Regions from separate parts of the Homo sapiens genome. Here region 1 is linked to region 2. Evidence: fine-mapped QTL for protein levels in blood plasma. Region 2 holds a variant in brackets. A gene starts in the other region. All regions are shown on their reverse strands.

Region 1 (15,667 bases), not on the chromosome of region 2:
TCAGTCAACTCTGTCTGGGTTTCTGGAACCCAGCCCCCCTCCCTGAGGTGATCACATGGAAAATGTCCAGCTGCGGTTGCTTGGAGAGATGAGCTCAGCCAGTCTGAGTGGGGCTGGGGGCCTGGACTCAGCGTCAGACTTTCCACTTCGGACCTTACCCCTCCTCCCACCTCCAAATACCACTCCAGGGATTCAGGAGCAGGAAAGGGGCCAAAGGGACTTCTGACACAAATGTCGCAGTCTTGGACTGGTTCAGAGGGGAAGGGTGGACACTGATGAAGGGCGGAACAGATCTGGAAGCACCTCTAGTCTGCTTCATTCCTGCCCACCCACTTCAGGGAAATAAATCCAAAGATGGACCAAAAAAGACAAGGGAGACTAGGTTGCAGTGTAATAAGTGGGGGGAAGATGACTTCAGAAATTGGTCCCCCGGGGTGGGAGTGGGAGGGCAGGGAACTCAAGAATAGATTCAACTCAATGACCCCAAAATGACAAAGGACATAGAAAGCTGGGTCCTAAATGGGAAGCTGGGGGTGGCAGAGGAAGGAGCAGACCAGTGTTACACTGCCTCTCATTGGCCAATGAAGAGTTCCTGACCTGGCAGGAGGAAAGGATTAGTCTCTCCATCCAGTCTTCCAAAGTATATTTCCCACTCTCCATGACTCTGCACCCCTGCCCTCCCTCTCCTCACGTTCCTTTCCCTCTGTCCCCCATCTCTATTATGCGCTTCCCCTTTCCTTTCTCCTTTCCTCTCTCCTACCATCTTTCTAGGATCCTCCTTCCTGGTTCCTCCACCCCCTTCTCCTTCACCAATCCCTTGCCCCTCTGTCTTTTCCTCTCGCGGAACCCTCTCTGTCTACCTCTTTGCTCTTATTTATGTCTCCAACCTCACCCATTTCCCCCTCCTTCTCCCTCCTTTTTCTCCCCAGCATAGCCCACAGAGCTTTATACATAGTAAGCACTCAAAAATATATACTACTTAGATCAATGGCACTTATTAGTTAATGTCCCTTGCACAATTCTAGGAATCTTAGAGCAGACAGATCTTTAGTAGTTAAAATGTTGGAGCCATGAAAGGTTTTGATCTGAGAAGTAACATCATCAGAGCCTTGGTTTAGGAAGATTAATTTGCCTGCAAAGAGTAGGGTGGATTTCAGGGGAAAATGAGACCCTTTTTTCATTTTCTCTCTTTCTTTCTTCAACTGTTTCTTTCTCTCTGACTTCTTCACCATCTGACAGGCTTCCCCACCTGGCCATAACTTCTTCTCTCCCTTCCATGAGTCTTCCCTCTTTCCTTGAGTTTTCCTTCCCTTTACCCCTATCCTGCCCTTCCTCCTCTCAACAACCCCCCTTCCTAGAACATCTGTAAGCAATTGGCTTGTAGAGAGGGGTAGGGTTGAGATTTCCCAGCCAGCTGTGGGGGTGTGGCCAGCCCTGGCCGACTGGATGGAAGAGTGTGGCCTGAAGGGAGGGCCACTCTCCCTAGAGGTGAAAGCTTGGAGTGCCATCCCACCGTTCCTGTTCCTAGGCACCCAGCCCTTTAATCAAACCCCAAACTTCTCTTCTTCCCAGGTCAATCTCATCACACACCCCTTTTCTATCTCAGAGACCTGGAAGCCCTAGCCCTACCTCCCAGTTCCACAATTCTGTCATCTGGAACCCTCTAGCCACATGTAGATTAGAGACTGGAAGAGGGTACCCAACCTCCCAACTGCTGGACATCTGTTGAAAGGAATATAAACTGAAGGGTCAGAAAGCTCCTCCTCTTGGCTTCTCCCTTAGGGCTTTGAAGTCCAATCAAGGACTGAGGCCAGAGGTCGGGGGTGTGGGTATTCAAAGGACAGAATGCAATTCAACCTTTACTGCAGGTAAGGTAGGAAGTCCAATATATTTTTGTACATTAGACCCAGAAGTAATCACTTGTGAATTGTGAATGTATAAACTGTATACAACATTACTTTCTTTTATACTATTATCTCAATTTAGTAAGCCTCAACCTTGGAGTCCAGGGGTTAAGAATCTTCTAAGGCTTTGTTCCTCCTCAAGTTATAGCTCTGGAAGAAAAGGAGGGGGCTCTGCTTCCCAGGAGTGCTCCATATTACTGGGCTCATAAATCTCAGCCCCAGAGACTCTCCATTTTACTTTTATGCACTGGCTGCTGGGGACACTTGGAACCTTTGCAGGAATTTCTGTAAACCCCACTTATCCCCTAGTTCAGCACCCCAACAGGTTAGCTCTCCCTGAAGAGAAAGGCAAGGGGATGGACCTATTCTTAGCCCTGTACATGATCTCTGGAAAACAAATGTGCTCATTGTGAGGTGATGATGGACAGGGAGGAATTTGCAGCCAAGGAAGGAGTGTATGTGTTTGGAGGTAGAGAGATGAGGAGCGCCAGAGGTCCAGAGAGCTCATGAGGAAGACTTATGAAAAGCAAGGAGAGGGACATGCTGTGCCCCATCCCCAACTTTGTGCCATTGTGTTAAGGACTAATGGCACACTATGCTCTACACATACACACACACACCCTGATTCCTACCTGATCAGAGATGCTGTTATCTCTATAAAGCCAGAAAGAGCTGAAGCTAGTAACATAGCATGTCTGGGTTTGGAGTGCAATCGGTGGCCCTCCTGCCTTCCTCCCCAACCTCTTTCCAATGCCCTTTCTGTCTGGGATTGATAATCCTTCCCAAGAGAGGGCTGGAAATGGCAGGCAGACTTGTGGAGGTGGGAGGGAACGCCTGGCTCATCCTCAACCCCTCATAGCCCCAATCGGATGTGCACTGGGAATCCTGGTGCTCCAGGTCCCTTCCTGATGGGCTCCAGATGTGCTTACATCTGGGAAGGCCATCCCAAGAAGCTGACACTCCCACCCACAGCTCCCACCCCGGATGGTTCTCTCCTCTGACTGCCAGGCCTTTGAGCTGAGAAGATTCAGGCACCCCTTTCCTCTCCAGAGGTAGGTACAAGGCAGCAAAGGGGAGAGAAAGGAAAGTCATGGGGGTGGCATGAGTAAGCAAATAAAATGAGGTCAATGCTTAGGACACCCCAGAGGATCTTATTTTCCTTTTAACTTCCTATCTGGGGTTGTTACATTTTGCCATAGCATTCTGGTGCCTCTAAATATGCCATAAATAAATAAATAAATAAATAAATAAGAAAAACTGAAGAACTTTTGGAAGAGAAGACATTAGCAAGAGTGGGGGAAATTCCTTCCCATTGATCTGCTTAATCTGGATTCCTGGGTCTTATATCTTGTATCCCAGTGTCCTCTTAGCTCTGCTCCTTTCCTGTCAGTGCCCATCCCCTAGTCCCTGTCTCCATGTGCCTCTCCAACCTAGTCTCGCCTGGAAAAACTCCCAGTTTGGTCTCCACAGAGGTATCTAGTCACAGGTTTTTTTTGTTTGTTTGTTTGTTTTGAGTCTGAGTCTCTCTCTGTCGCCCAGGCTGGAGTGCAATGATGCTATCTCGGCTCACTGCCACCTCCACCTCCCGGGTTCAAACGATTCTCCTGCCTCAAACTCCTGAGTAGCTGGGATTACAGGCTCCCGCCACCATGCCCAGCTAATTTTTTGTATTTTTAGTAGAGACGGGGTTTCACCATGTTAACCAGGCTGGTCTCAAACTCCTGACCTCAGGTGATCCACCCGCCTCAGCCTCCCAAAGTGCTGAGATTACAGGCGTGAGCCACGACATCTGGCTCTAGTCACAGTCTTAATCACTGGGTTCGGAGTCCTGGAGCAACAATAGAACCCACGAATCTTATTGCTAAGGTCTGCTTTTGTCACCCTAGTAAACATCTTCCATCCACCCCTCCTGTGCTCTGTGCAAACTGGGGATAGAAAAAGGAGAGGAGCCTGGGTTTATTTTAGGCATAGGACACAGGGGAGGGGTTTCTCCTGGGTCAGACAGCGGGTAGGGATGGTGGAGGTGACTCACAGATGATAGAGCCCTCAGTTCCTCTAGGCAGAGACCTGAGTCAGAGAAGCAACAGAGCCTGAGGGTGCAAATGGTCTACTCCTGTACTTTCCAATTTCCCTTTCTTAGACATACACGCACACACACACAGAACAACTCCCCAGCTTCAGCAGTCTCTGGATCCTGGTATAACTGGGCTCCTATTCTACTTCTGGAAATCCCCCCACCCCCGCCTTCAGCTTCATAATTTTCCTAAATATCCCACCTTCCTTCCCTCTGTGAGATCCAACTTCTTTGTTTGCTTGTTTGTTTTTGTCTTGTTTTGTTTTTGAGATGGAGTCTCGTTCTGTCACCCAGGCTGGAGTGCAATGGTGCAATCTCAGGTCACTGCAACCTCTGCCTCCCAAGGTTCAAGCAATTCTCCTGCCTCAGCCTCCCAAGTAGCTGGGATTACAGGCACCCACCACCACGCGTGGCTAATTTTTGTATTTTTACTAGAGACGGGGTTTCACCATGTTGGCCAAGCTAGTCTCAAACTTCTGACCTCGTGATCTACCCACCATGGCCTCCCAAAGTGCTGGGATTACAGGCATGAGCCACTGCACCCAGCCTAGGAAGTTTTATTTCATGGACACCTCAGCCTCTACCACCTCTACCCAATCAGACTTTTTACAGCCCAACAAGACCTGAGTCTGTTTCTTAAAACCAAGGCATCCAGCCTTAGTGTTCTCAGAATTTCCAGGCATTTGAGAATCTTAAAGAAGCCACTGAGTCTCACCCCAGAGAAATCACATGCATATAAACAAAAACTTCCATCCAGTTTCAGAGGATTAATGGATTGTATACCCAATCTTCCCCCACCCCACCCCAAGGACAATGGATCTAGGTTATAATTCCTACTCTAGAATCTTCCCCCATACCTCTGTAGAAACCCAGCCGGTTTACAGGGCTGACATTGCAGTGGGAAAAGCAACGGCTCTGAAATCTACTGGGATTGGGTTTGGATTTACCTCTGCCCCTTTCTGTTGGCCTTCGCTTAGTCACTTCTCTCCTTTAGGCTTCGATTTCCTAACAGTAAAATGAGGATCATGATACCTTCAGTGCTGGATAAGTTGGGATAAATGGGATAGAGGCAGATTAAAGGTCAAGCCCAGGGCCAGGAATACAGCATGTGCTAAATAAACCATTATCAGTACTCCCCACCCCTCTTCCACACTACTAAAATTCAGCATGACCCCTGGCGTTAGAACTTGCACCTGTATCCTGAACTCCTCTGTGGAAATTCACTCTTGTGGTTCTAAAACTCCAGCCTTCAGGGCAAGCAGGCTGGCGACAACAGGAGCCTGCTGAGTGTCCTGGCCTTGCCCTTCACCCTTCTTCCTCTCCATCAAGCAGACCATGATTAATAATGGTCAGTCATCACAGCAAATCATTCCTACTGAGCAATGAAGGGACAGAGGGTACCAAAGAGGTCAGGTTTAAGAGAAAAAGCAGAGGCACTTGGAGACACACAAACTTGGCCAGAGAAAGGCTGAGAGATATACAAGATAGAAAGAAAAAGCTGAGAGGAGATAGATCATTTAGAGGGGCAGTGGGCTTAGAGGAGAAGGCACTGGGTCTGGAGTCTAAACACTTAGGTTCTAGGCTCACCGCTAACTGGCTAGCCATATGACCCTGGACAAATCACTTCATCTCTCTACACCCATTTCCTCTTCTGAAGGAGAAGATTGGACTGATGGCTTCTATCCCCTCCTCACTGGCCTTTCTAGGTCAGCTTCCAGGCCTGGAGGTCTGTGCTGAAGTAGCTCTAATTAGGAGGGGACCCCAAGTTAAGGACGAACCCAGAGCAGAGGAAGAGAGGATCAGGCAAAGGCAGGCATGGTGAGAGGAAAGGCAGGAGGTGTTGGGGCCACTGGGAGAGGACTTATAAGGGCAGAAAGAGCCAAGAGAGGAGGGATATTGGGGAGAGTAGAAAGGCCAGCCAAAGAATGACTAAGGGGCTCCCGGTGTAAACAGGAGCAGGGAATGGACAGGGAGGGGGCCTGTTTGAGTTGGCCAAGGCTAGGGGTGGAGTGGGGAGGAGGACTGGGGCAGGACGCTATGTCCCCTGTCCCCCACCAAGGCTCCTGGGAGGAGCTGAGTCACACACCTCCTTCCCTGCACCCCTCCCCACCCCCACCCCTAATCTCCCAAATCCTGGGAAAATCTAAAGAGTTTGCCTAGACTGAGAAAGGAGAGTGTTTGGTTCACACACGTGTTTTGCTGGGCTAAAAAGCAATCAGGCCTCAGCCCTTCTCCTCCCAAAGGGGGTTCCCAGCCCATGGCTTGAGTAGCTCTCACCTAAAGGTTGCCTTTTTGGCAATGCTGGGCTTAAAGATCCTGACCCAGAGATTCCCTGGGTTCCTCACCTAAGAAAGGGTCAGGACTTGCAGATGTGAGAATGGGATACGGGCCAGCATTGCCCCACAGTCTGGCCAGCCAGCCTCTCCCTTGGGCTGCAGCTGGCTCTGGAGGGGGGCTTTTAAAAAAGCAGATGGGTGATTTGGGACAGGAAGTGGAGTAGCAGAGTGAGGGGGAGAGTCATGGCAGGAAAAAAACATTGACTCTGGGCACTCTTATTCTGAGCCTTTCAGCCCGAAGTGGGGCAGGGGACTGGAGAACAGAAGGGACAGGGTTGACAGGATATTATTGACAGGGTATTATTCTGGAAAGTGAGGAGTCCTGGAGGAAAGAGACTGAAAGGACTTGTAGTCCCCTCCCCCAGACTAAGATAAAGGCTAGAATCCTGAAAAGTGATCTCATCACACAGAGCCTGAGCTTGGGGAAGAGGTGGGCAGGGGGTCACTGCCTTCCCTTTCTAGAGTCCCTTCCTCTACTTCCACAGGGGAATCTGGGAAGAATGGGGTCCTGGCTTTCCGCTCCCATTGTTTTTTTGGTTTTTGGTTTTTGGATTTTTTTTTTTTTTTTTTTTTTGGATACAGTCTTGCTCTGTCACCCAGGCTAGAGTGCAGTGGTGCAATCGCGGCTCATTGCAGTCTCTGCCTCCTGGGTTCAAGTAATTATCCTGCCTCAGCTTCCCGAGTAGCTGGGATTACAGGTGCGGACCACCACATCTGGATAATTTTTGTATTTTTAGTGGAGATGGGTTTTGCCATGTTGGCCAGGCTGGTCTTGAACTCCTGGCCTCAGGTGATCTGCTCACCTCGGCATCCCAAAGTGCTGGGATTACAGGTGTGAGCCACCGTGCCTGGCCAGAGCTCCCAGCGTTTACAGCCATTAGGAGCTGAAGGTTGGGTCCCTTTGCAAGACTTTCCACCACCACCACCACCTCTCACAATTCTCCAGGTTTGTAGGAACCCGGCCAGTTTAATCAAGCAGGTACTGAGGGGCCAGCCACTCGCAGGCTTTTGGTCAACTGTCAGATCCAAGGAAGGGGCTCAGCAGAGGTTTACATACCCTAGGACCAAGAAGGGGGCAAACTGGAGCAGAATCCTCCTGATGAATGACCCCAAACTCCTGGGTTTTCAATACTAGCAAGCTTGGAGGAGGAAGCAGCGGAACTTGAGGAGCCCGTGTAGGTCCTCTAGCAAGCTGACTGCGAACGCTGTCTCTGTACCTCAACTGTTGTGTCCCAAATCCAGCTGGCCAGAACCCAGGCACCCGGCGGCCCCGGAAGGCAAGGGGGAATCCCAGTTGGCCGGACGCCAGAGGAGTCTCCTGTCTCTTTAGACCCCAAAGTCTCCTCCCTAAAGCACTGAGGGAGACCCCACACACATATACAGGCTTCCTCCGCCCACCAGAGGTGATTCCTTTCCTCATTAGGAAATTCTCCGCTCCCTTTTCCGACTCGTTTTCCGAGCGTTTACGTTGTACATCTGGAAAGGAATGGGGAGGAAGGAGGGGGAAGCAGAGAGGAGGGGGAAGAACCCAAACCCGCCCAGTCTAACCCAGTCCAGACAACCGGCTTCCAGCTGGGGCTGGGGAAAGGGGGTTGGAGGGGTGCGCCCCCCCCCCACGCCCCTTAGGGGTGGGGGACGCGGGCTCAGAGTTCCAGGGACCCAGGAATGCCCCCCCGCCAGCCCCCTCGGCAGGCGGGGGGAGGGCTCAGCCGGGAGTTTGGCAAACTCCTCCCCGCGTTGAGTCATTCGCCTCTGGGAGGTTTAGGAAGCGGCTCCGGGTCGGTGGCCCCAGGACAGGGAAGAGCGGGCGCTATGGGGAGCCGGACGCCAGAGTCCCCTCTCCACGCCGTGCAGCTGCGCTGGGGCCCCCGGCGCCGACCCCCGCTGCTGCCGCTGCTGTTGCTGCTGCTGCCGCCGCCACCCAGGGTCGGGGGCTTCAACTTAGACGCGGAGGCCCCAGCAGTACTCTCGGGGCCCCCGGGCTCCTTCTTCGGATTCTCAGTGGAGTTTTACCGGCCGGGAACAGACGGGTGAGTGAGGAGGGCTGGAGACGGGATGGGGGTGGGGGAGCCGCCTGGAGACTGGGGGCGCGGCTGGGGTCTGGAGGGGACCAGGGCTTAAGTTTGAGGGTGGAGTTTGTAAGGAATAGAGCTGCAGTTGGGGGCCCTGGCTAGAGTTGGGGGCCCGCGCTGGAGTAGGGAGGGCACCGTGGCGGGTGAGGAGGGGCCCTGGCGTTTGAGATCAGTGGGGAGACATGTGTCCGGTGGGGAGAGGACACGGAGCTGGAGAAGTCTGGGCAGGGGTCTCCGGGCCAAGGGAGAGGAGAGCGCGTGAATGGAGAGCTGAGGGTCTCTGGCTGAAGTCTGTGGGCTGCTGGGACCTGGGGCGGGTGGGGGCGCAGAGGGGGCGCAGAGGCCGGGAAGGGCTTTTGGGGGCTCCAGGAGACCTCGGGATCCGTAGGGGCCATTGTGCGGCGAGAGAACGGGTAGAAGCCGAATGAGCTACGTGTAGTAGGAGGAAAGTCAAAGACTGAGGGGGTCGGAAGGTTAAATGGGGGCCAGCCTCATCCTCCCCTCCCCCCTCAACTCAGACCGGGGAAAGACCCGAGAGAGGACGGCGGCTCCCTCTCCTTTCTCCTCTGTCTCCTACTCCTCCCTCCGCCCCCAATCTCTGTTCAGGCGAGGGGATCCGAGAACTGGGGGCGAGTGCGGGGACCCTGGCACTGGGGCCCTGGGGCTGGGGGCGAACTCAGCCAAGGGCGGGTGCTGGGATGTGTCGGGAGGGGTGTGTGCGCGCGTGAAGGGGGGTGGGCGGTTTCCCTCTTCCTCTGGCTCTTGGGAGGAAGAGAAAAGCTGGTTTCCTGTAGCTGGTCGGCTGGAGCTGTGCTGAGACCGGGACTTCTGGGGCTGGGGTCGGAAGCTGGGGAGACGGGGGCTCCGTGGGGCCAAGAACGTCAGAATGAAGGACTCAGGACCCTGGAAATCTCAAAGGAGGATCCTTATTCCCAACTCAGCACAGTGATAAGCAGACCCGGACCCCGAGTGCCTAGAAAATGGGGTACTGACAGGCTTGGGAAACAGGAGTTAGAGTGGAAGCAACATTAGAACCAAGGGTGTCTGTTTAAATGTGGGATGGCGGGGAGATTGGGAAGCAAGAGAGGTAGGTGGTTGCTCCTGGGCTAGGCCATAGATGCCAGATTCCTGGTCCTCCACAATGACTGGTGTAATCCTTTTTCTTCTACATCTCTGAGCTGGGAGCTTCCTACTGCTCACCCCCACCCCAACCCCAGGATCTCAGGGTTTGAGGGGAATTCTGTCAGAAGCGACCTGTTTTTACACATGAGACAGTTAACTGATCTCTACTCAGTCCCTATAGTTTTTGGAGAAAAGGGGTTAATCTAGCTAATACAACTGGGGAGAAAGGCAAATTCTCCTTTGTCTGGAGGACTTGGGGATGGGAGAAAAGAAAAATGATTAGGCCCCGACTGTTGTTCTGGGCTATTCAAGGTCCCCACCCAACCCCCACCCCACCCCCCTGGCCTTTTGCCCAAACCCCATTGCATCATCACCCTGGCCTGGAGCCTCTGCCAGGCCTGGTCTCCCCCAGGTTCCCTCAAACTTCTTATCACAGCCCTAATGGAGTAGAAAAGAGGGAAGGAGGAAGGGGATGAGGTCTCCTCCCGCAGATCAGAGTATCTAGTTGTCTGGCATTTAACCTTCTCTTTACTCCCCCCTCCCCTAAATTTCCCTTTAAAACACTCCTCTAAAACATCTGGACTTCACACATTCCTGGTCCCCTAGGTGTCTGTCTGGCCCCTGGCCTGATCCTGTAGTCCCTAAAGTCCTCTTCTAAAACAGGACCTAGCTCTCTCATCCCTTCCCCCTCCCCTTCTGCTCATCTCCCCTCCCAAGAGAACCCAGGTGTCCAGCTTGCACTCCTTCCCTCTCATTTCCTATTTACAATACCCTCTTACAGTGGAACATTCTACCTCCCCAGTGACCTCCTCCCACCACAGCTAGGCCTTCACCCCCTTTCCCACAACACAAGACAAACACAGCCCCTCACCTACAGCCATTGCCAAAGAGGGAGAGCCTCAGTGTTCTTGTTCTTCCTGCATCACCTCTTGTGGTGAACACCAAAATAGTATTAAAGGACAGGGCGAGCACCAAAGCAGTTAGATGGTAGGAAAGGGCAAAGCTTTCAGTCAGACAGAGGTAGGTGTGAGTCCCCACTACTTACTAGTTTTTTGCGTGGTACCCTAGTACCTAGGGAGAGGTATTTAAGCTCTTGGAGCCTGGTCTTCCCGTGAAAATCAGACACCTGACTAACGGAGTTCTGAGGACTAAATGAGAAAACATATACAAAAGGAACCTGGTCCACAGAGAGTGATCAATACATGGGCGGCATGGTTTTTATGGGGTAGCTGTTTCTGTTTCTGGTTCTCTCCTTCCTGGCTACCGCCTAGTTCCCTCATTTCTTACTTGCTTTGAGTATTTGCTTATACTAGTGATAGTAACAATAGTCTGTCATATTCCTTTAGCACTTTCATATCGATTTTTCCATTGGATTGTAACAAAAATCCTTGTGTTAAAGCAAAGGAAGCATTATTGCCCCATTTTTAGATATACAAAAACTGAGGCTGGCCAGGTGCAGTGGCTCACGCCTGTAATGCCAGCACTTTGGGAGGCGGAGGTGGGTGGATCACCTGAGGTCAGGAGTTCGAGACCAGCCTGGCCAACATGGTGAAACCCCATCTCTACTAAAAATAAAAAAATTAGCCGAGCGTGCTGGCACGCACCTGTAATCCCAGCTACTCGGGAAACTGAGGCAGGAGAATCCCTTGAACCTGGGAGGCAGAGATTGCAGTGAGCTGAGATCACATCTGTACTGAGCGACCCCAGACTGGGCGACAGAGTGAGACTCCATCTCAAAAAAACAACAACAAACAAACAAAAAATAAAAACAACTGAGGCTTCAGGAGTCATAGAAATTTTGAACCAGAAGTTAGTTTAGGAAACATTCAAGGGAAATCCATCATTTTATGCCAGAGAATCCAAAGCTTGAAGAGAGGCAGTGACTTGGCCCAGGACACTTGAAAGCTTGAGAGGCAGGCCAGTCTCAGCTCAGCTCCTTGTTCCCTTCTGCAACTGCCACAAGTGGAGACAGCTGTTCTTCCCCAGCCAATCATACATATCCCTTGTGAATGCACTAGGGGACCCCAAACCAGGTGTCCTCCTCTGGCCTGGCCCATGCTGCTGTAGGACCTGTAGGAGCTGGGCGCTGGTCCACTTGCTGCTCTCCACCCCTGACCTTGTCAGGCCAACAGAGTCAAACAGTAACCCAGTATTGAACTGGGACTTGGTTAATCAAAAGCTGGGGAGATAGCAGATATGAGAGGAGGGAATAAGTTGGCAATGGGGTAGACTAGAATGCTGTCGTAGAAATCAGGATTCCTGATTTCTGCTTCATATTCTGGGAGGGATTATGAGTGACCTAAGCCCATTACTTAACTCCTCTGAGATAGTTTTCCCATCTGCAGAATGAGAACATGGGACGAGGTGAGCAGCTTTGAACTTTTTCTTAGGGAGTGTCAGAACGAGGCCAGTCTGCCTTTATGCCATGTGGCCTCAGGCACCTACAGTGAAGTCTTAAAACCAGTGGATGCTCTCTACAGTGCCTTCTAGCTGTGGTAGTCTGTGTCTCCAAGGACCAACCCTTCCATTTCTGAGGCTTCAGAATAAATTCTGGCAGTTATTTCTTCTCTCAGACTCTATTTCAGAAAAGTGTACCTGCCAACCTGCATTTAGTAAGAAATAATGAATTCCTTTTCTCATTCTTTTTATTTTTATTTTTTATTTTTTTGAGACGGAGTTTCGCTCTTGTTGCCCAGTCTGGGATGCAATGGCGCAATCTCGGCTCACCGCAACCCCCACCTCCCTGGTTCAAGCGATTCTCCTGCCTCAGCCTCCTGAGTAGCTGGAATTACAGGCATGTGCCACCACGCCCAGCTAATTTTGTATTTTTAGTAGAGACGGGGTTTCGCCATGTTGGTCAAGCTGGTCTCAAACTCCCGACCTCAGGTGATCTGCCTGTCTCAGCCTCCCAAAGTGCTGGGATTACAAGCGTGAGCCACCACGCCTGGCCGTTGTTGTTGTTGTTGTTGTTGAGAAGGAGTCTCGCTCTGTCTCTGGACTGGAGTGTAGTGGCGTGATCTCGGCTCCCTGCAAGCTCCGCCTCCCAGGTTCATGCCATTCTCCTGCCTCAGCCTCCCTAGTAGGTGGGACTACAAGCGCCCGCCACCACGCCCGGATAATTTTTTTGTATTTTTAGTAGAGACGGAGTTTCACCATGTTAGCCAGGATGGTCTCGATCTCCTGACCTCGTGATCTGCCCGTCTCGGCCTCCCAAAGTGCTGGGATTACAGGCGTGAGCCACCGCACCTGGCGCTTTTCTCATTTTTTATTAACCAAAAACATCTATAGCTGCCAATCAGAGTTTCTGACCAGCATGAGATAACCAGGTTCCCACATAAGTTGATATAATTCCAGCCAAAAGCAAATACACTTGAGGTTTTAATTAGCCTAGGCCACCTTATCTGGTAAATGCATGATTTCCGTTAGGCTTTCTGAAATATTGAAAATAGCACACGGACCCTCCATTGTTACCTTCTTAGACCCCTAAAAGTGCCCAACTGCTGCAGGATTTAGGAAGCAGGAAAAAGATGTGGGAAAATAAGGACAAACTAGCTTGCATGCCATCCATGGCACCAGTCACCTCACTTGGCGTGTTGGCAGGGGAGGCACTATTTATTGGATTGACTTTAGGTTGCTGGGATGGAAGGGCCACTGCCTGTCCAGGAATAAGCCATGGGTAGTGTGCCGGGAGGAAAGGAGGCCTAGGTCTGTGTCCCTTGCCTGCATGCCAGGTATCCTGAACCATCGCACAGCCGGAATGGATATGCCCCTGGCTTGTGGGCTTTACAAGCTTTGTAAACTCTCTGTCTTGCAACCCTGCTAAACTCCAGGCTACTTCCTCAGGCCACCCCAGGAGTGTCAGGCTCAGCTCCTCTCCAAGAGCAGTGGGTGTTGGAGAAATTGGCAGCAGGAATAGGGTCCCTTGGCCTTAGCCCTGTGCTCCAGGAAACTTTGAGAGAACCTCTTCTTCACCCAGAGGAAGAGGGAGAGGGTATTGCCCAAGTCCACAGTTAGTGCCTGAACCAGAACTCTTGGCTCCTGGTCCAGTGCTCCTTTCACTGCTTCCTGTACCTCTGCTGTTCTGGTCTAGTTCAGGTTGGTGGCCCTTTCTGCTTTCTAGAGCCTGAAGGCAGCAACCAAGTTCTCTGGGGGCTGCCCCTGCTGAGAGAGGGGTCTCCTTCTCTCACATCACCCAGCCCTAGGGCGGTGCAGCCAGACCCCACAAGTGGATGTCATGCCTAAGTGAGAAGGGTGGGGCCTGGCACGGAGGTGGGGGTGTGGGAGACAAACGGAGAAGTGAGAGGTTGGAAACAGACAGGAAGCCACAGGCAGTAAACATTTCCTGTCCCCAGAGTAACGGAGACTGGCACCTCCCCTCCCCACCCCTCCTAACTTCAGGAGCTCTCCCTCTTCAGCCTACCCATCTCCTATTCCTCTGGACCCTGCCTTCTCTCCCCTCCATTCTCACCACTGGCCCTCACAGACCCCTCCTCACTCTCCTCTTCCGTCCCCTCGGACCTGTCCTCTCTGCTGCTTCCATCCCCTATACCTCCTGGGCCACTCCTCCCCGCCTCAGTATACCTGGTCTTCTTGGAAAATACCCCCAGCTCTTGTGACCTCTACCATAATCCTTCACTTTGGGCCTTCTTGCCTAGTGAGAAAGCTGAGGAAGGTATTCAAATATCAGGGAAAGGGTAGGTATTGGACGGGTTGAAAGCTGAAAGTGAACAGAAACCAATAGAGATGGAGAAATGTAAAATCTGAGATAGAGAGATAGGATTCAAAAACCAAAACCAAGAGAGCAAGCAGTCATAGGGGCAGAGGGACAGAGGGATTGAGAAGCAGTGCCAGAGGCAGACACAGAGCAGAGCAGAGGCCAAGGCTGGCAGGAGCACTGGTCCAGAGGCTGGGTCGAGTTGCCCAGGCTGCCAGATACAAGTCCTGGCAGGAGACCCTTAGGGGAAACCAAGAGAGCCAAGAGCGGTGTGGAGGTCTTGGAGGCAAGAGACCTAGGGATGAATGAGGCAGAGCTGACGGCAGGAGGACTGCCCAGGCCCTTAGCTATGACCACCCCATTACACAGGGCAAACTTCCCCTCATATCAGGGGGAACAGAAGCACTGTGTCCAGAACTGGGACCCCGGTAGAGCAGACTCTGAATTCAGTCAGCTGGGGGTGGTCTATGGGAAAGGGGTTCAAGGGCTGAAACACAGACCCAGCCAGGAAGGGGAGGCCCACACCAGGGCCGGGGTGAGGGCAGGCCCAGGCCCAGTGGAACAATCTGTTTTCACTGTCCTCCAGCTCCTCTCTCCACTCCTGCTGCCTGATTTCCAAGACTCACATTTTCCTCCTACACGCCCCAAGGCTGGGTGGCTGGGCAGCCGGATGCCTGGGTCTTGGCCCAGGGAGGGGATTTGGCTTGGGAGGAGAGTATATAGGCTAGATGAGAGACCCTGAGGCTCCACAGGACCTTGGCGCTCCAGAAGCTATACATCTAATCTCAGCAGGTACGTAGAGGAGAGGGAGAAGCCAGGGGTACAGGCTCTGGCCCCTCTTCCCCTTCTAGAAATTGACTGTGGTTCCTCCTCTCTTTATGAACAGGATAAGGTAGGAGAGGACAGAGAATGGCGGGAGGAGGGGAGGGTTGTGTTAGTGACAGCGGCACATGGGGACCGCCTGACTCCAGCCTGTGCCTCTGGCATCTGTGGCATCTTCTGAGATATAAATACAACGCAGGGGGCATCTACTCCACCCCCAGCCAGCCCCAGCCTAGAGGCCTGGGTCCTTCCTGCCTCCAGACACCAATGAAAAGCTAGGAGCCATCCTCAACTGCCTCGCTTTTCCCCCCCACAGGGTCAGTGTGCTGGTGGGAGCACCCAAGGCTAATACCAGCCAGCCAGGAGTGCTGCAGGGTGGTGCTGTCTACCTCTGTCCTTGGGGTGCCAGCCCCACACAGTGCACCCCCATTGAATTTGACAGCAAAGGTAGGCCAGTGAAATTCAGGGAGGGACTGGGGGGTGGGACTGCAGCCTGGGGGCAAGGCCTGGGTGGGGCCTGGGGCGAGGGGTGGAGCCTGCTGGAACCCCGGCCACGTGACCTCTCAGCACCAGCTCTGGTGCTCCAACTGCTTACAGTGGATCCCCATGGCACTCACTCCACT
Region 2 (15,667 bases):
TTCAGTACACTCTCATTTAAACCACAAGTAGATATAAAGCTAGAGAAATACAGATGTCTGCTCTGTTAAATATAAAATAGCAAATGTTCATTCAATTTGAAGACCTAGAATTTTTCGTCTTAAATACCAAACACGAATACCAAATTGCGTAAGTACCAATTAATTATAAGAAATATATCACCAAAATGTACCATCATGATCTTCCTTCTACCCTTTGATAAACTCTACCATGCTCCTTCTTTGTAGCTAAAAACCCATCAAAATTTAGGGTAGAGTGGATGGGCATTGTTTTGAGGTAGGAGAAAAGTAAACTTGGGAGCATTCTAGGTTTTGTTGCTGTCACTAGGTAAAGAAACACCTCTTTAACCACAGTCTGGGGACAAGCATGCAACATTTTAAAGGTTCTCTGCTGTGCATGGGAAAAGAAACATGCTGAGAACCAATTTGCATGAACATGTTCACTTGTAAGTAGAATTCACTGAATGGAACTGTAGCTCTAGATATCTCACATGGGGGGAAGTTTAGGACCCTCTTGTCTTTTTGTCTGTGTGCATGTATTTCTTTGTAAAGTACTGCTATGTTTCTCTTTGCTGTGTGGCAACTTAAGCCTCTTCGGCCTGGGATAAAATAATCTGCAGTGGTATTAATAATGTACATAAAGTCAACATATTTGAAAGTAGATTAAAATTTTTTTTAAATATATCAATGATGGCAAAAAGGTTAAAGGGGGCCTAACAGTACTGTGTGTAGTGTTTTATTTTTAACAGTAGTACACTATAACTTAAAATAGACTTAGATTAGACTGTTTGCATGATTATGATTCTGTTTCCTTTATGCATGAAATATTGATTTTACCTTTCCAGCTACTTCGTTAGCTTTAATTTTAAAATTACATTAACTGAGTCTTCCTTCTTGTTCGAAACCAGCTGTTCCTCCTCCCACTGACCTGCGATTCACCAACATTGGTCCAGACACCATGCGTGTCACCTGGGCTCCACCCCCATCCATTGATTTAACCAACTTCCTGGTGCGTTACTCACCTGTGAAAAATGAGGAAGATGTTGCAGAGTTGTCAATTTCTCCTTCAGACAATGCAGTGGTCTTAACAAGTAAGCAGTTGAATGTATCTGTTCCATAAATATTAACCTAGAGCATAGCAAATGAATTCTAAATTCTCAAGTAGGAGGAGCTAAGAGCAAGAGAGCTGCAACCAAGCTACAAACTAAACTCTGAATTCAATGCACAGCTCCATTAATTTTGAAAGATGTAATGTTTGTTGCTATCTTAATATACTTTTGATATCTACAGCTTTAAAAAAATCATAGTGGAAAAACACCTGCAGGAAAGTTCCATGACTTCAAACAAATTCTGCTTCTAAATAAGCACGTAAAAATAAGTGAATATCAAGAGAAATTATATGACTAAATCTAAATCTTTAGAGAAAAAAATGAGAACTGAAAATAGTGTCACCATATGTGCTTTATTCTCATTTTTATAAAAAAAGTGTCAGCAGTTGATTGATTTAGGATTTGAATACTTAGAAAAGTGACTGATTGTTTGGTCTAGATTAGAATGTTGTTGTGAAGAGAGTCAGAAGTTTAATTTGTACTTCAAAAAGAATCTGTTAGAAGGATTTCTCAGAAGACTGAGAGCTTAGAAAAAAAACTGACATTAAATAAATAACAACAATTTATGGAAATTGTCTCTTTCTAGTCCCAACCATTATAGAATAGACATCTTTTGTTAAAGAATAAAACAGTAGGCTGCAAGATGGTGCTGTGTTTCACATAAACAGTGCTTTTTATTATTTTCACTGTAATAGTCAAATATATAACAACAGCAAAAGATTCTACATAAGGGAAAAATAGCTTACATTTAGGTACATTACCAAGTATTAGTCTGAAAACATCTACCTTTCAAACATAATTTAGATAATGAAACACAAAGAAGAGCAGCTCAGCGTGACCATAATCTTGGTTTCTTACTTTGTGGCTGAGGGCAAGAATATCTTTATATTGGCATATCCACCACCCCAGGGCTGTTGCTTCTGTTCTAGAGCACCCTGGAATCACTAATTACAGCATCACCCAGTATACAAGCCCCTGCATCACAATGTCTGTCCCTTAGCCGTAGACCTGTCACATGCTAATCATGTGTTCTAAGACCTTATTATAATCCTAATGCTACAGATGACCTCAGGGTAGCCCCTCTCCCTCCTAGCAAAGTCATTATTATCCTCTTTTAAAGATGAAGCAAACCAGTGCAGTGGCTCTCGCCTGTATAATCCCAGCACTTTGGGAGGCTGAGGTGGGCCAATTGCTTGAGCCCAGGAGTTCGAGACCAGCCTGGGCAACACAGTGAGACCAAGTCTCTACAAAAAATACAAAAATTAGCCGGGCATGGTGGTGCACACCTGTGGTCTCAGCTATGTAGGAAGTTGAGGTAGGAGGATCACCTGAGCCTGGGGAGGTTGAGGCTGCAGCAAGCCATGATCGTGCCACTGCACTCCAGCCTGGGTGACAGAGTGAGACCCTGTCTCAAAAAAATAAACAAACAAATAAACATGAAGCCGTCGAGGTCCCCAGCAGTTAAGTAAATTGCCACTGGCCAGCTAGTATGGTGGAAATGGAATCCAGGCATCTGGTCCTCCATTCTGGCACTTTTCCAAACTTTTGTAGGGGGCTTTATAGAAACGCTGAAGGGCAAATGGTGTGCAGGGGAATGAGGGTTTAGTGAGTAGGAGTTCCAAATTTAGAAACCTCACTCTCTGTATCTTTTAGATATACAAATATTTACCATATATTACAGTTGCCTCTAGTGTTCAGTACAGTAACATGCTGCACAGGCTCATAGCCTAGGAGCAATAGGCTAGACCACATAGCTTATAGCTTAGGTGTGTCAAAGGCTCTACCATCTAGGTTTTTTGTTTTGTTTTGTTTTGTTTTGTTTTTGAGACGGAGTCTCCCTCTGTTGCCCAGGATGGAGTGCAGTGGCACGATCTGGGCTCACTGCAACCTCCACCACCAAGGCTCAAGTGATTCTCCTGCCTCAGCCTCCCGAGTAGCTGGGATTACAGGCGTGAGCCACCACGCCCAGCTAATTTTTTTGTATTTTTAGTAGACGAGGGGTTTCACCATGTTGGCCAGGCTGGTTTCAAACTCCTGACCTCAAGTGATCCACCCTCCTCGGCCTCCCAAAGTGCTGGGATTACAAGCCCATCTAGGTTTGTGTAGGTACACTCTATGATGCTTACACAATAAAATCACCAAATCACACACTTATCAAAATGTATCTCCACCATTAAGCTATGCCTGACTGTGTATCAAAATGGAAGAAGAAGCTGGGCACAGTGGCTCACGCCTGTAATCCCAGCACTTTGAGAGGCCAAGGCGGGTGGATCACAAGGTCAGGATTTCCAGTCCAAGCCTGGTTAACACGGTGAAGCCCCGTCTCTATTAAAAATACAAAAATTAGCCAGGCATGGTGGCAGGCACCTGTAATCCCAGCTACTCAGGAGTCTGAGGCAGGAGAATCACTTGAACCCAGGAGGCAGAGGTTTCAGTGAGCCAAGATCACACCACTGCACTCCGGCCTGGGCAACAGAGTAAAACCTCGTCAAAAAGAAAAAATAATAAAAATAAAAAAAAATGGAACAAGATACTCAGGGATGTATATTTAATTTTTTAAAAAATATTCTGCTCTCATTTTAATATGGCAGAACCGATTGCTTTCTAAGTGTGGCTTTTTTCCAGTAAAGGTTAATTATTAAGACCACTAGTCCTGGCCTGGGTCAATCCCAGTATGATCCTGGGCAAGTAAATTAAAGAAGATAACTTCTCTGTGCCTCAGTTTTTTTTTGTTTTGTTTTTTGTTTTTTCATTTACAAAATGGAGATAATTGTAGTAAATCAAATTTTTAGAGGTGATAGGTTTGTTCATTTCTTGAATGCGGTGATGGTCTCCCAAGTCACACATATGTAAAAACCCATCACTTTAAAGATATGCAGTACGTTGTATGACAAGAAATTGCTTTTAAAAGGAGCAAACTACCTTCCAGGGTTGTTGTGAGGCATAAATGGCAATCCACAGCACCACAGCAAGGATTATCATGTGCCCTCCAGAGACATACTCTCAGGTGGATGCGAGAAATATCCAGCTGTTGCAGCAACTTCATCCCACTCGAAATCCAGCTGAGTCACACTCACAGGTGGAATGGAGGGCTTCGAGAGGCCATGGGGCAAGGTGACCCTTCCTTATCATCTAATTACAGACCTTCTCAAGGTCTGTTCACTGAACACTTCGCTGTAGTGTTCACTTAGGTGTAAGTAGGCTATAGGACTGGACATTTGGATATTTCATCAGTTCAAATAGTCCTGGGCGTGCTTTAGTTTCTCATGCTTTTGAGCAGAGTTTTAAAATAAGCCCCATTTGCCCCTACAGATCTCCTGCCTGGTACAGAATATGTAGTGAGTGTCTCCAGTGTCTACGAACAACATGAGAGCACACCTCTTAGAGGAAGACAGAAAACAGGTGAGTGGTGTTGGCAGTATGACTATCCAGTAGCTTTTGCCTATCAATTCTGTATAACAAATGAAATGCTACTTCTAAAAATACATCTCCATTTTTTGTTGTCATGGTGTGTGTACCTTTGTCATCACAGTATGATTTTATCGCTGGTCTCAAAAACTAAAAGATACCTTACTCAACAATCACCTAGACTTTCAGTCACTAACAAATTAAGAAATTTGTTGTCTGTCCTTTTAAAAAACATTTTCTAAGAAGATCTTTGTTATTTAGATTTAGCAGACATTCCTTTTCATTAGGCAGCTCTGTCTAATGGCTGACCCAACACTCATTGTCATCTATTTGTCTTCCTTTACTAAGCCAGCAAGTTTACATTTTCTTTTTACTTAATAAAATATGCATTTACTAGAAGGAAGTTGAATTGAATCTCATAAATATTACATACTTAAATATGAATGCTTTTAATTTTTTCTTTCAAAAGGTACACTTTAGTGTATTCATTAATTTATTTATAGTCCACTTGCTTCCAAAAAGGACTTATGATATCTTAGTTTGGTTTCTTATTGAAAAGAACTAGTAAATGCTGTAACTGAAACAGAAATTTGCTGGAAGTCCCAGAGACTAAGTGATTTGAATTTGCAACAAACTCTGAATTTTTGTGCATTTTTGAAAAATGCATTTTTCAAAACTGTCAATTCACGAGGAATTATCAGCATTGTAATTTGTCTGGGATAATGTCTTTAGTTTCAGAAAGTTTTGTGTTTGGCATCATTACCACTCTGTTGACATATAAATTTCCTCTTGAGCTTAGGAGGCTTCTCTGAGAGTCAAACATTTACTTTGAGAGTGGGCAGATCTTGCTTTACTTGGAAGGATACACTTACAGGATAGAAACACAGAATACTTGAACACTGAAGAATTTGAAAATGTCAATTCTCAGAAGATCTTGAACACTTATCTCCAAATGTGACACAGAAACTTACTGTAATAACCCCTAAAATCTGCTTGAATTACTTAGCACAAGAAAAAAATGAATGCTTGAGCTGGCTATTTTGAATTGAGTCAATTTAAGATTTTAAAATTCATATGTAGCTTAGAATCAGTACATCTTACTCTTTGGTTTATGGCAAATCATGGTATTGATGAGACAGGAACGAAATGTTGGATGTACGTTAATTTCCCCTACACCTTCCTCACTTCCTAAACTGGTGGTGTCTTTTCTTTTTTTTTTCTCTTCCTCCCCCGGGTGGGAAAAACAGGTCTTGATTCCCCAACTGGCATTGACTTTTCTGATATTACTGCCAACTCTTTTACTGTGCACTGGATTGCTCCTCGAGCCACCATCACTGGCTACAGGATCCGCCATCATCCCGAGCACTTCAGTGGGAGACCTCGAGAAGAT[C/T]GGGTGCCCCACTCTCGGAATTCCATCACCCTCACCAACCTCACTCCAGGCACAGAGTATGTGGTCAGCATCGTTGCTCTTAATGGCAGAGAGGAAAGTCCCTTATTGATTGGCCAACAATCAACAGGTAACTTTTCTTGTCTGCAAAGAAACTCAGAAGACTTTCCTACCCAGTTGGTAGATTCTGTAAAGTAGCTTGCTGTTGTCTGTCATCAGCTCTCAAAAAAAAAAAAAAAAAAAAAAAAAATAGATCATTGTCATGGTACATGGAGAGGGAAGTGAGAAAATGTGGAGAAACATCTTCCTTAGAATATGGTAAAGAAGCCCGGGCGTGGTGGCAGTAAAGAAGATAATTTTTTTCCTCTCAAGAAATTTCTCACCTGATTTGGGTATTTATGCATTTCTAATAACACAAGTTTTGTTGAAAATGTAGAAAATTGGCCGGACGGGGTGGCTCACGTCAGTAATCTCAGCACTTTGGGAGGCCGAAATGGGCAGATCACTTGAGGTCAGAAGTTCAAGACCAGCCTGGCCAACATAGTGAAACCCCATCTCTACTAAATATACAAAAATTAGCAAGGTGTGGTGGCATGCACCTGTAATCCCAGCTACTGGGGAGGCTGAGGCAGGAGAATCTTTGAACCTGGGAGGCGAAGGTTGCAGTGAGCTGAGATCAGGCCATTGCACTCCAACCTGGGTGACAGAGCAAGACCCTGTCTCAAAAAAAAAAAAAAAAAAAGGGCCAGGCGCAATGGCTCACGCTTGTAATCCCAGCACTTTGGGAGGCCAAGGCGGGTGGATCACGAGGTCAAGAGATCGAGACCATCCTGGCCAACATGATGAAACCTCGTCTCTACTAAAAATACAAAAATTAGCTGGGCGTGGTGGCATGCACCTGTAGTCCCAGCTACTCAGGAGGCTGAGGCAGGAGAATTGCTTGAACCCAGGAGGCGGAGGTTGCAGTAAGCCAAGATTGTGTCACTGCACTCCAGCCTGGTGACAGAGGGAGACTCTGTCTCAAAAAAAAAAAAAAAAAAGGTGGAAAACTGAACACTGTTTCAAAGTACCTTTAAAAATATAATTTTAGGGTAATAGTGTCATTGTTCTTAGCAGATAGAGGCTGAAGTACTTACGGGAACAGTAGCATCATGTTATCTGTATTTTAGTCTCAAGTCGTCAAGCCAGAGACAAATACCTAAGGGAAGGGTATATAGGTGTTCATTGTATTACTTTTTTTTTTTTTTTTTTCTTCCTGAAATGGAGTCTTGCTCTGTCGCCCAGGCTGGAGTGCAATGGTGGGATCTTGGCTCACTGCAACCTCTGCCTCCCAGGCTCGAGCAATTCTCTTGCCTCAGCCTCCCAAGTAGCTGGGACTACAGGTGCCCGCCACCACGCCCGGCTAATTTTTGTATTTTTAGTAGAGATGGGATTTTACCATGTTGGCCAGGCTGGTTTTGAACTCCTGACCTCAAATGATCCACCCGCCTCGGCCTCCCAAAGTGCTGGGATTACAGGCGTGAGCCACCACGCCCGGCCTTGTATCACTTTTTTTTTTTTTTTTTTTTTTAACTTTTCTGTAGTTTTGAAATTTTTCCAAATAAAATGTTGAGGGAAAAAAACTCTTCCCCAAATTTGAAATAATCATTTTATCACAATTTGAATGGGCTCTGTAACCCCTTATCTTGAATTCGTCATAATATAAAATTCTGCTAATTACACGTAGTATTTACATGATTGTATGGAAGAATCATTAAGACAATTATCTGGAAAATGAACAAACAGTAAATCTGAATATTGTTTGAAAATTACGGATGTGAAAAGTTTCCCTTTTTTTTCTAGTTTCTGATGTTCCGAGGGACCTGGAAGTTGTTGCTGCGACCCCCACCAGCCTACTGATCAGCTGGGATGCTCCTGCTGTCACAGTGAGATATTACAGGATCACTTACGGAGAGACAGGTACAGCAGTAAAATGCTATTTTACACTCTGATTAAATCAGATTCTGTTGTGGATAACCTGAAAGCCCAACAGTGAACAAAGAATTAAAGAAACTTTGGCAAGTCCATTCAACGGAGCCCTTGTTTTTTCCAAGAAAATACGTAAGATATAGATGATATAATTTGTTCTAAAACCCAAATAAAAAGTTGTTTATATACTACAACTAGAGGGGGAACGGCAGAGCTGAGGAAATAAAAGGATTGTAAATTCACAAACATATTATCAGTGGTGGAAATAAGTGATTTTTATTTTTTCTTCTCTTTACTTTTCTGTATTTTCCAAATTTTATTTAAAAGGAATGTATTCTGTTAAAAGTTTTAAAAAGGACACAATGCATGCAATCCTGGGTTGAGGGCTTACCTTCTCCCACTTCTAATGCTACTCTACTACTCAGTGACATTTTAAAGCTGAAATGTTAAAACAGCGCTAACTGTAATTTTCTCTCAATGTTTATACACTTACCAAGGTTTGCTACATGCATAAATACCCCTTTCTGTTCAAGATAGCGCTCTTTAAAAGGGAATAAGCAAGAAGATGTGATTTACATGCTGCTATAAATGTGGTAATTCAATTAATCAGTAATACCCAAGTAGCTCTAAACCCCTCACACTCTGAACTAACCCTTTTTCATACAGGAGGAAATAGCCCTGTCCAGGAGTTCACTGTGCCTGGGAGCAAGTCTACAGCTACCATCAGCGGCCTTAAACCTGGAGTTGATTATACCATCACTGTGTATGCTGTCACTGGCCGTGGAGACAGCCCCGCAAGCAGCAAGCCAATTTCCATTAATTACCGAACAGGTACAAACTTCTACTCTGGGGTGACACCAGCTTTTACTTATTCAGATACTGTTTTGCAATGTTCTCCCAAGGTATTTTTCTAATTGTAGAATAGATTTTCCTTTTTAATGAGCAACAACCTGCAGCTAGCACCTGCAGCGAACAGAGTTTTGAGCCAGATAAAGAAGGAAGCACCCCAAGGGCAGGAAGTTCAGTCAGTTTTGTCGATATATTCCGCATGTCTGCAATACGACAGGCATAGAGAGTGTTCAGTAAGTATTTGTGGGAAAAGAATGGATGAGTTGATAAAGTAGGAAGAGACACCTGCTTGTGGAATGTAGCTTCTTTGTGAATGAAGCAACCATCTCAAAAATAGGAAATGGTATTGAGATGCCTGCCCCATCCCTCTAAAAGCTCTCTCTGTATTCTTTCGAGAAGAAATACCTTTCTCATGTAAGCGATCATTCGAATATGTACCAGACCTAGAGAGGAGGACTTGTCCAATCTTGTCTCCAAGGACTGGGGCTTCACTGGTTTCTCCCTGCTTTTATTTGTAGAAATTGACAAACCATCCCAGATGCAAGTGACCGATGTTCAGGACAACAGCATTAGTGTCAAGTGGCTGCCTTCAAGTTCCCCTGTTACTGGTTACAGAGTAACCACCACTCCCAAAAATGGACCAGGACCAACAAAAACTAAAACTGCAGGTCCAGGTAAGAATCATCTGCATCTCGGCCAGGTGCGGTGGCTCACTCCTATAATCCCAGAACTTTGGGAGGCTGATGCGGGCAGATCACTTGAGGTTAGGAGTTCGAGACCAGCCTGGCCAATATGGCGAAACCCCGTCTGTACTAAAAAATACAAAAAAATTAGCTGGGCATGGTGGCTTGTGCCTGTAATCCCAGCTACTCAGGAGGCTGAGGCAGGAGAATGGCTTGAAGTCTGGAGGCAGAGGTTGCAGTGAGCCAAGATAGCCCCACTGCACTCCAGCCTGGGTGACAGAGTGAGAGACTCCATCTCAGGGAAAAAAAAAAAAAAAGAGTAATCTGCATCTCATATACAACAGGATAGATGGGGTAGGACCACCTAATATTCTTTTTTATATAAATGGCTACCTTGTTGTGAGTACTATGTATTTTTTTGTCCTATGTCATCATTGTCCCCATTCATGAGTTCAGGGCTCAAGATCATTATCAACCCTTTTCACAGTAGAAGTCTTAAGTGCATTTCTGTTTTTACATGGATAGTTCTATTTAGTGATATGGACATCTTAAATTACTAGATTCACCCTTCTGGTTTTGTTTATCATTCACACTAAGAAGAGATAAATGGCCTAACTGACTTTTTCAGCTCTTTTTAGCTATGTTGTCTTTGTTTTTAAATAGAATACTTGTGAAATTAGGATCTTAAGGCAATTTATTAGAGTCAAGTTAATTTTCATTTTTTCTGAGAGCAGTATCACTAATTGTTGGGGGCATCATATTAAGTTTTAGATCTTATCCTTGAGTGTGACTTCACTCCCATATGGTAATTTGTATTAGCAATGAACAGGTTTGTCCAAGAGGAAATCAAAGTCTGACTCTCCATATTTTTGTTACAATTCTGCAAATAAAAATTCTAGGCCACCATATGTTTACTACCAAACTCTAGACGCCACTTGAGGACTTTATAGTGGATGACGTGGATGTTGCATTTGCTTTTCACTCCCTTTGCAGATCAAACAGAAATGACTATTGAAGGCTTGCAGCCCACAGTGGAGTATGTGGTTAGTGTCTATGCTCAGAATCCAAGCGGAGAGAGTCAGCCTCTGGTTCAGACTGCAGTAACCAGTACGTAACCACTGCTTGGTTTCCATTTTCAAAGTCAAATTTTGTTCTTGGGTGTCTGAATGCCCACGACATGTCTTTTGCAATTACACATAGGGAAAGTGAACTTGTTGGTTAGTTTATGTCTTGAGCTGAGCCCTTTACGAACATCTTTTTTCCTTCTCAGTGCCAAGCGAGGAATTTACAGAGAAAGAAGTTGTGAAACCACCATAGTTAGTTGCTGTGCTTTGAATTTCTTTTGCTCAAATGGCCTCAGCGAAATCTTATTTGCCTATAGCAAATCTACAAAAAATTTTCCTAGACCGTCTTTTCTACAACTGGATGGTAAAGTTGATTGAAGTGTGCCTCATGTAGCTTTATGTTTGGGGCATTTGAAGGGCTATGGCTGGACCAGAGTGTAATATAAATGCTTAATAGAGAGGGGAAAAGAAGAGTGTAAGAACCATTATAGGGCTGGGCTCACGCCTGTAATCCCAGCATTTTGGGAGGCTGAGGCAGGCGGATCACGAGGTCAGGAGTTCGAGACCAGCCTGACCAACATGGTGAAACCCCATCTCTACTAAAAATACAAAAATTAGCCAGTCGCGGTGGCACGTGCCTGTAATCCCAGCTACTCAGGAGGCTGAGGCAGAAGAATCACTTGGACCCAGGAGGCAGAAGTTGCAGTGAGCCAAGATCATGCCTCTGCACCCCAGCCTAGGTGATAGAGTGAGACTCCATCTCAAAAAAAAACAAAACAAAACAATTATAACAATTTGAATCTGACATTGCAAATCAGCTTTACCACTTCCAAGGTATAGAAAATCCAGGTCTATGAGACTAACATCACATTGTAAAAATCAAATCGTGGTAGAATATCTTTAAATTAATATAAATACATCCCCATTGTGGGGACATTTTGCAGGGTATCTGCTTATCTCACATACACCTATGTTTTAATAAGTGATGCAACATTGCATATTTTCTAAACCAAGAAAAATTAAGCAAGTGTTTAAGTGATTTTTCCTTTTGATAGTGGGTTAATTGGACTTCATCAAAGAAAATGGTATCTGCAAAACTGCTTTGCATGTTATAAAAATGCTTATTTCACAACTTGCTTTTCACATAACCTCTTACCATTAATTTGCCTAACAGACATTGATCGCCCTAAAGGACTGGCATTCACTGATGTGGATGTCGATTCCATCAAAATTGCTTGGGAAAGCCCACAGGGGCAAGTTTCCAGGTACAGGGTGACCTACTCGAGCCCTGAGGATGGAATCCATGAGCTATTCCCTGCACCTGATGGTGAAGAAGACACTGCAGAGCTGCAAGGCCTCAGACCGGGTTCTGAGTACACAGTCAGTGTGGTTGCCTTGCACGATGATATGGAGAGCCAGCCCCTGATTGGAACCCAGTCCACAGGTATATGGTTAATTGCACCACCAGGTGCCCATGGGAGCAGCGGCTTTATGCCCTACTGAATGAATTATGCTTCACTGGGCTATTGATTCCCGTGTAAGGGTGAAAAAGAATTATTAGGAAAGATCCTCTTTAAAGAGGAATGGTAAGAAACAATAAAACTTAGGTGATATTTAAGGAAACAAGTCTGATTAAAAGAAATTTTGGAGTATCCTGGCTTATACACAAGACCATAAAGCAAGACATTTGAAGAGGATACTAAAGTTGTGGATTATTTCCTAAGCTCTGACTCCCTGTGATTACCCTCACTATGTATAAAGAAAAGAAGTTTGGCATTACAGAGCTTACTTATAAAAAGGAACCCAAACTCGGGCATTTCATAGCAGCATGATTCTGAGCACACGTGGGTAAGACCTTTCTTCTCTGGTTAGATATCATATGCTGGTGTATAATTAGCTTAAATGATTGTGATTTAGACACCTAGGAAATAATCAATAGGGCAATTGCTTTCCATAATACTTTATCTTCTTGTGCTTTATTTCTGAAGCAGAGTAGAATGCTAAAGATGTATCCTAGTGACAGCATAAACCCTAGAGGTGACAGTCTGTATTATTGCTTTTCGCTTCTCTTTTCTGCTTCTGTTGGGAGCCAGTTTTCTTCTTACGCCGCATTACAGAGAGAACGTCAAATTTAGCAGCCATATCTGCCATAGGGTCCAAATAAAGAGACAATAAAAACATTATTCTCTCTTTTTTGGATGGAATACTGCGTGAAATGGTTATCCATACAAAGATACTTTATGTAGAATAGAAAAAGGAGGCCGGGTGCAGTGGCTCACACATGTAATCCTAGTGCTTTGGGAGGCTAAGCCGGGAGCACTGATTGAGGCCAGGAGTTCATGATCAGCCTGGGCAATGAAGTGAGACCCCGTCTCTACAAAAAAATATGAAAAAATTAGCGAGGTGTGGTGACACATGCCTGTAGTCCCAGCTACTCAAGAGGCTGAGGTAGAGGATCACTTGAGCCTACGAGTTCAAGGCTGCAGTGAGCTATGATAACTCCACTGCACTGCCGCCTGGATGACACAGAGAGACCGTTTCTAAATTAATTAATTAACAATTTTAAGAAAGAAAAAGGGCCATTGCTTATTTTTCCATACAAAAGTAAAATAAATCATAATGGCCAATAAGCCAATGTAACTTTTTTTTTTAAGGGAAAGCAAAACTTGTAAAACCTAAAATCTCTTAGAGTTTTGGCATTTACCCAAATGTTTTCAGTGATTCTGAGAATTGGTGGATATAAAACACATTTCTCAGCAAACACTTTCTTCATTTTGCATCCCTTACTGTACGTACTTTCTTGTACTGAATCTTTGCTTGACCAGGGAACCCACCTAGCCCAACAAGAACAATCCATTCTACTTCTTGGAACTCACTTTATTTTCCTTTTCCCCCATTTCCTATAAGATAACCTCTAACCAATGACAATCTCGACAGCTATTCCTGCACCAACTGACCTGAAGTTCACTCAGGTCACACCCACAAGCCTGAGCGCCCAGTGGACACCACCCAATGTTCAGCTCACTGGATATCGAGTGCGGGTGACCCCCAAGGAGAAGACCGGACCAATGAAAGAAATCAACCTTGCTCCTGACAGCTCATCCGTGGTTGTATCAGGACTTATGGTAAGACATGACCGTTGTTCATTGGAATAAAGATGGAGATCATCTCTAACACAGTTTCTAAGGTGGTGAAAATATAATATCATAATAAATCTAACTGTTCTTTTCCTCTGCATCAAATAATCTTATTGTAATTTTATATCAACGGAATTCCTTTATGTTGACCTAAGTTTTCCAGATGACTATTGGGACAGAATTTTATAAATAGCTTTGGATTTTGTGCAGCTCTTTTAGATGTATTGTGCTTATTTTAAAAGGTTGTGGGGGGCAATTTACATATCCATTGGTTGAATGCATAAATCGACTTAGTTATGCATTTTCTGAGCTCTGTTACCTTGGTAAAGAATATTTTACAGTTTGTACCAGTCTACCTTGAGCCTACCCTCATTAAAACATTTTAAAATCCTTCCAGACATACATGCAGAAAACTGCTAGGAACCTAGGGGACTGATGTACCTCTTAACATAAGGCCAATTTCAGGGGAAACTACAGAAAGAGGGTTCAGAGACAAAATGGAACATTCTCTTTGCCTCTCTATGATAAGGAAAAAATTATGATTTACACCTGTCAGATCATAAAAAAGAAAAATACGCTAATACCCACTTTTCTCATTTTTTTTACCAGCTTAGTTTAAGTATATAATCTATGGCTTACTTAAGCTTAACCGCTAAGAGCATTTTAAAATTGATAAATACATTTATCACCTGCACTGTAGGAATGAAATTAATCTAGGAATTTTCAAGGTTGTGGGTTTTGCTGGTTTGTTTATTTTTTATTTTCTAACCATTGCATTTACCTAATGCTGTAGTGAAACTCCTTGGGTTTCAGTTGAGGACGTTGCTAAAGCTCACCATGCCCTTATTTCTCTAGGTGGCCACCAAATATGAAGTGAGTGTCTATGCTCTTAAGGACACTTTGACAAGCAGACCAGCTCAGGGAGTTGTCACCACTCTGGAGAGTAAGTAACAAAATGTCTTCATATGGACAAACCTTCTGTATAGACAAAAATTAAAGAATGGTAAATCAGTGGGGTTCAGTGGCTCATGTCTAAAATCCAAGCACTTTGGGAAGCTGAGGCGGGAGCGTCACTTGAGGCCAGGAGTTTGAGACCTACCCGGGCAAATAGCAAGGCCCTGTCTCTTAAAAAAAATAAAATAAATAAAATAAATAATTTTTTAGATTTATATGTTAACAGTGGAATGAGTCCTAATTTGAAAATCAATTTGATTGCCTTTTTGACGCATGACTGTCATCTTTTATACTCCTTCAGAAAGGGGTCTACTGACCCATAAAATGGAATCACTTCATAAGCTTATAATGTTGATATTATGGACTATGACTGACATCTAGTTTATGCTCTACTTGTTAGAATTTGTTTTCATAGAGCTAAGCTTGGGGAGACCCCACTGGCTTCTGCTATATCTTAACAATGCATATTAGGCCATTCTTGCATTACTATAAAGAAATACCGGAGACTGGGTAATTTCTAAAGAAAAGAGGCTTAATTGGCCCACAGGCCAGCAGGCTTTACAGGAAGCATGGTGCTGGTATCTTCTTGGCTTCTAGGGAGGCCTTGGGAAGCTTACTCATGGTGGAAGGCCAAGGGGGAGCAGGCACATCACATGGCTGTGGCAAAAGCAAGACCGAGAGAGAGAGAGAGTTGGGGGGGGAGGACCTTATACATTTAAATGACCCAGTCTCTTGAGAACTCACTGTCATAAAGAGGGCACCAAGCCACAAGGGATCTGCCCCCATGATCCAAACACCTCTCACCAGGCCCCACCTCCAGCATTGGAGATTACAACTCAACAGAGATTTGGACAGGGACAAATATCCAAATTATATCACAGCACAGTAACCATTGGACCAAATCAGGCTTAGATTCTAGTCTTCTGTTATATCAATACCTTGATGTATGCCTTTTCAAAAGTCAGGTAAAGTGTCAAAGTTTTATCATTTATAAAAGAGGGATGGCATTGTACCTGTTGAGAGAAAATACAAAATACTTGCCGTAATATTAGACACACACACACACACACACACACACACACTCTCTCTC

Alleles and levels. Positions count from the first base shown, and alleles are read on the strand shown. Strength reflects both the effect of a copy and how common the allele is.
In carriers of allele T in region 2, the plasma level of the protein whose gene starts at base 8,059 in region 1 tends to be lower than with C alone (moderate association).

What was found. PIP is the chance, under the fine-mapping model, that this variant and not a neighbour inherited with it causes the effect. The UK Biobank Pharma Proteomics Project read protein levels with antibody pairs (Olink). The fine-mapping took linkage between variants from a reference panel, not from the people measured, so its PIPs are less certain.
Region 1: it holds the start of ITGA5, and the variant in region 2 is fine-mapped to the plasma level of the ITGA5 protein (UK Biobank, PIP above 0.99).

The regions. Positions count from the first base shown.
Region 1 is chr12:54,411,658-54,427,324 of GRCh38, reverse strand. ITGA5 (integrin subunit alpha 5) reads left to right here and starts at 8,059. Exons shown (of 30, transcript NM_002205.5): 1 at 8,059-8,344; 2 at 15,361-15,491. The coding sequence starts at 8,127. All of the region lies in intron 2 of GPR84-AS1 (GPR84, ZNF385A, ITGA5 and GTSF1 antisense RNA 1), which reads right to left. RefSeq lists enhancers at 14,310-15,091, 15,092-15,667 and a silencer at 15,527-15,666.
Region 2 is chr2:215,377,074-215,392,740 of GRCh38, reverse strand. It overlaps FN1 (fibronectin 1), which reads left to right. Exons shown (of 46, transcript NM_212482.4): 26 at 927-1,109; 27 at 4,440-4,529; 28 at 5,783-6,052; 29 at 7,765-7,881; 30 at 8,557-8,721; 31 at 9,258-9,413; 32 at 10,416-10,529; 33 at 11,661-11,930; 34 at 13,424-13,611; 35 at 14,479-14,566. Among named protein-coding and RNA genes, the nearest start is that of FN1-DT, 51 kb to the left of the region's middle. RefSeq lists an enhancer at 345-1,544. The variant C/T (reference allele first, on the strand shown) is at 5,926.